Linked DNA regions of Homo sapiens: region 1 is linked to region 2. A link means that fine-mapping ties the variant in region 2 to the expression of a gene that starts in the linked region. Tissue or cell type: thyroid. Region 2 holds a variant in brackets; the other region holds the start of a gene. All regions are shown on one strand. Distances are between the middles of the regions.

Region 1 (2,661 bases), 68 kb before region 2:
AACTAACACAGCAACAGAAAACCAAACACCACATGCTCTCACTTATAAGTGGGAGCTGAATGATGAGAACACATGGACACATTGGGGGAACAACACACACTGGGACCTGTGTGTGGAGGGGGCAGTGAAGGAAGGAGGGAGAGCATCAGGAAGAATAGCTAATGGATGCTGGGCTTAATACCTAGTGATGGGACGATCTGTGCGGCAAACCACCATGACACATGTTTACCTGTGTAACAAACCTGCACATCCTGCAGAGGTACTACTGAACTTAAAATAAAAGTTGAAGACTTTTTAAAAAATCTAGAAAATTCCCCTGGGCTCCCCTTAAATCAGCCAACATTTCTTCAGAGGCAATCAGTACTTAGATTTTTATCATCCTATATTAGTTTTGCATATTTTTGAGCTTCATCTAAATAAGAATCAATTAGTATTCCTTTATGTTTACCTTCTTTTGGCCAACATAATATTCTTAAGATTGGCTCATGTTGCTATGTGTTCAGAAGTTTATTCTTTTTTGTTATGTGTTATTTCACTGTATATATATACTATATGTAAATAAGCCAAAGTCATTCATTCTCCTTTGATTAACATTCGGGTTGTTTCCAGTTTTTGACTGTTACAGTTGCTATGAGTATTTTACTTGAGTCTTTTTGTAGAAATATATTTTCATTTTACTTCTGTAAATGCCTAGGAGTTGAATTGCTGGATCATACAGTAAGCATATATTTAAATTTATGAGATACTACCAAATATATCTCCAAAAAGCTTGCTCCATTTTGCACTCTCACCAGTAATTTTGGGAGTTCCAGATGCTCTGTATCCTTACCAATACATGCAATTGAACTTTTTAAATTTTGGGCATTCTAGTATGTATGTAGTATCTCGTGTGGTTTTAACTTGTATTTCTCTGATGACCAATGATGTTGTGCCTCTGCTCATGTAATTGTTGGTCATTCACTAATCCTTGTTTGTTTGTTTGTTTGTTTGTTTGTTTTGAAGAAGAATCTGTCCAAAACATTTGTTTATTTTCATTGTTTTATTTTGTTATTAACTTGTAAATGTTCTTTATATATTCTGGATAAAAATATATATCATTTTCTTCAGTATGCATCTTGAGTTTTAATTTTTTATTGATGTTATTTGATTTTTATCAATATCTTTTGAATAGTAGAATTTTTAATTAAAGTTGAATCTATCAATTTTTTTTTCACAGGTAATACTTTTAGTGTCCTGGCTAAAAATTCCTTGCTGTACAAGGTAATGGAGACTTTCTTTTATATATTCTTCTAGAAGTTTAATAGTCTCAGTTTTTATATTTAAGCCTATAATTCTAATTAATTTTTATATTTGGTGTGAGGAAAATAGCATAGCTTCTTTTGTCCCATATTGATATCCGGTTGTTTCAGCACTACTTGTTTAAAGATTATCCTTTTTCCATTGAATTAAGCTGTTGACTTTACACAATCAATTTGCCATATGTATGTGGGTCTATTTCTGGAGTCTCTATTCTATTCTATTAAATTATTATTTTAAAATCATAATACATTAATTAGAAATGTGTTTTTAAATTTCTAAATATTTGAAGGATTTTCTAGATATCTTACTGTTTTGTATTTATAATTTAAATCCATAAATTATATAGATGGAGTGAGAGCATACACTTAAGATTTCAATCCCTAAAAATGTACTGAGACTTATTTTATGGTCCAGTATAGGCTTATCTTAGTGAACATCCAAAGGATGCTTCAAAAAAAATGGTTATTTTGCAGTTTTTTTTGATGTAGTGTTTTATAAATGTCAGTAAGATCAAACTGATTTTTACTGTTGTTCAGACTGTCTGTATCTTGAATTATTTTTGGTCTATTTCTTTCATCAGTTATGTGGGGAAGAGGAAAGACTGCTAAAAAAGTCAAACTAATTTGTGAACTTGTCTTTTTCCTTTTTAAGTTGTGTTAGGTTTTTGCTTCGTCATTTTTAAAGCTCTGTTATTAGTGAATGTACATTTAAGGTTGTTACGTCTTTCTGAAGAAATGCCTTTATTGTCATCATGAATTGTCTCTATCTCTGAAATCTACTTTGTTTGAAATTAATATTATAACACCAGATTTCTTATGCTTACAATTTGTTTGGTATATCTTTTTCTATCCTCTTACTTTTAATCTATTTGCTTCTTTGAATTTAAAGTGCACCTCTTTGAGACAGTGTGTAGTGACAGTCTCTGCTTTAAATGGGAGAGTTTGGTTGGTTTATTTATATTTAATGTATTTATGGATATAGTAGGATTTAATCCTAGCACCCATTTGTTTTTTTCTCATGTCCCTTAAGTATTTTGCTTCTCTCCTGCTCCTCTCCTGAATTTTTTTGGGCCAATTGAATTTATTTGTTGATTATAGTATTCCATTTACAAGGCTAGCGGTGTTCATTTTTACCTTAACAAAGTCTATTCAGAGTCAATATTTTACCACTTCACATTTCATACCTGATCTACTTCCTACTTACTCTTAATCATCTGAATCTTCTCAGTTCCTATTTCATACTTCTCACATTTCCACTTCTCACTTCACAAATTTGATAACTTACAATAGTATAATTGCATTACCCTCCCTATCATTCATTGTGATAGCATTGCCTATCTTTTATTTTGATACACTAAATAAC
Region 2 (2,853 bases):
AGTACCCTTGCAAAACCTCTCAAATCATGAATCACACCAAGGAAGTAGCAGCCTTGGTTTCAGTCTTAGTTTTAAGAACTGGAGAGGAAGCAACATAATACAGTATTCCCATGAGACAGCAAAGCCTTTCTCCTCATTTTGCAGATGGGAAAATTGAAAAACAGCATAAGTGACTGCTCAATTTGACATGAATGAGGGGTAGAGCTGGAAACAACAACAAAGGACTGCACTTGGTTTTCTGTCACATTAAACCTTTATTTATCCAAAGATTTATAAGTTACTTTGTTTTACAACTCTAATCTCTATTTTTTAAGAAAATGGCAATTATATTTCCCCAGACTGTGATTAACAAATGTAATAATAAACATATAAATCCTTCCCATGGGATCCTGGTATATTGTTTTCTGGGTCAGCATGTTTTGTGCTCATAAAGTTTAATAAAACTTTGAAATGCTATTTTGAAATAATTCAAATACACTGCCAATTTTTCCTTTTTTGTGGGAATTTGTGTTTGATATGTACTAAATTTGGATGAAGTAGTTTTTCTTCCTTCATGTCTGTCATTGCAGCTAGAAGTTGAACATTGGATAATAAAATTTTTTATTTGGCCGGGCGCAGTGGCTCATGCCTGTAATCCCAGCATTTTGGGAGGCCGAGGCGGGCAGATCATGAGGTCGCAAGGTCAGGAGATCAAGACCCTCCTGGCTAACACAGTGAAACCGCGTCTCTACTAAAAATACAAAAAATTAGCTGGGCGTGGTGGCGGGCGCCTGTAGTCCCAGCTACTTGGGAGGCTGAGACAGGAGAATGGCGTGAACCTGGGAGGCAGAGGTTGCGGTGAGCCGAGATCACTGCACTCCAGCCCAGGCAACACAGTGAGACTCTGTCTCAAAAAAAAAAGAAAAAAAGAAAAGAAAAAATTTGTGTGACAGTGGCATTAATAAAATATTTATATAGGAAGACTTCTTGACTTTTAAAAGCTATTTCAAGGGTATATTTTTGTAACAAACTGAAATTTTTGTTAAATTATTTTTGAACAACTTTAATGTTCTAGCTCTTGCCTCAAAAGCACAAAGTAGAGCAATGAAACTATTTTTAAGTCTTCAACTTTGGAGGGCAAACTATCTTATTAATCAGGTTTTAGCAAATTTACTTAATAAAACTTATGCAGAAGTATGATTTAATTTTTTTCCATAACAAGGGCATAGCAATATTCTAATCATTTTGAGCCGTGAAATAGAACACAGAGTAAAAATCCTCTAGTCTATCCTATGTGGCAGTGGCAATTGTTTGTGGTATATGTTGCATATACACCCTAATTGCTTATGGTGTAGAGACATAAAAGAATATGTTTTGAGATCTGCACTAATAAGAAAAATGTCTGGGTCATCTTTAGCACTCTTTATTCATGACTCTATTTGCATGCCCTAATCATACACAATGAATCAGTAGTTT[C/T]GGCTGCTTAATGAACAAAAATTCAGAACAGAGAAGATAGCTTTCTCCAGTTGTGTCATCAGCTAGCAATTCCAAGGTCCCCGACAATTTCCTTAACACACACAACCCCCAGTAATTATAGCACATTTTCTAATAGATAACTTCTCAAACAAATTCTCAATTACGTAGGGGGTAAATCCATGCCTGAAGACTGCTTCATCACTGAGATTGGCTGTTTTATGCCCCCAAGCAGTGGCTGACACTTCCCTTTCACACAGTGTTCGGAACTCTTGGAGTGCATGAGACATCTGGGAAATTAGAGCTATGATAGGCTACCTGAGTCATGTTGGAGTCCTGCTCAACTGGAGAACACAGAAACGCATTGGTGTTTGTGGCTTTGTTCATATGTATGGGGGATTTTTGAATCTCATCTTACTTCCCATAACCTATTAATAATTGTCTTTATTTTGGCTTTTCAGACAAGAGAAAGATTTTTAACCTTTTCCCCTTAGCCTACGTACTTTGTTGTTGTTGCTGTTTGAGGCAGGGTCTTGCCCTGTTGCTCAGGCTGGACTGCAGCCGTGCAATCATAGCTCACTGAAGCCTCAAACTCCTGGGCTCAAACTATCCTCTTGCTTCAACCTCCTGAGTAGTTAGGACTACAAGTATGTGCCACTATGCCCATATAATTAAAAACAAAATTTTTTTTTGGAACAGGGTCTTGCTATGTTGCCCAGGCTGGTCTTGAACTCCTGGCTTTGAGCAATCCTCCTACCCCAGCCTCCCAAAGTCCTAGGATTACAGGCCTGAGCCACTGTGTCTGGCCAGCCTACATACATTCTTAAGCGTCCCCTTTCCCTAAAAATATGCATCTACTCCAAAATAAAATTTATAATTATTCTAATCAGTTTACTGCTTATTTCATAATTTTCTCAAACTATGTGACTAGAAAATTTTGACACTCAAGCTTAGTGAAATTATAAAAACTAGGTGTTGTTAATTCTCTAAGGATGATGTACCAAAGGGAGAGTTAGAAATAAGCATTTACAGCAATTACCAAACTAAAAGGCCAAATAAAAAATAGATAGCTTTTAGTTATTCAAATAACAATAATTATTATAATAATCCACGTTACTTTGCTCCTTGAAAATACAAACTCTACCTATTGTAACAATTTTGATCCCTTGAGCATATTGCTTGGCTTTTAATACATTTTATTCAAATATAACAAAAAGTCCTCCGTAATTAAACTGCAATATTTTTGTTGAAGTCAAATTACTATCATTGTGAACATATGCTATATGTATTTAGTAAAACAAACCAAAGGAAAAAAAAAGGGTTCAAAAATTCAGAATATATCAGAGAGATTCGAATATAATGGTTTATTGATGTACTTTAACATAAGCATGGGCATTTGAA

What was found. PIP is the estimated chance that this variant, and not a neighbour inherited with it, causes the effect.
Region 1: LINC03056 starts here. The variant in region 2 is fine-mapped to the expression of LINC03056 in thyroid (GTEx, PIP above 0.99).

Annotation. Positions count from the first base shown.
Region 1 is chr12:63,372,309-63,374,969 of GRCh38, reverse strand. LINC03056 (long intergenic non-protein coding RNA 3056) reads left to right here and starts at 1,217. Exons shown (of 2, transcript XR_007063345.1): 1 at 1,217-1,260.
Region 2 is chr12:63,303,915-63,306,767 of GRCh38, reverse strand. The region is part of intron 1 of LINC03056 (long intergenic non-protein coding RNA 3056); the gene reads left to right. Among named protein-coding and RNA genes, the nearest start is that of LINC03056, 68 kb to the left of the region's middle. The variant C/T (reference allele first, on the strand shown) is at 1,456.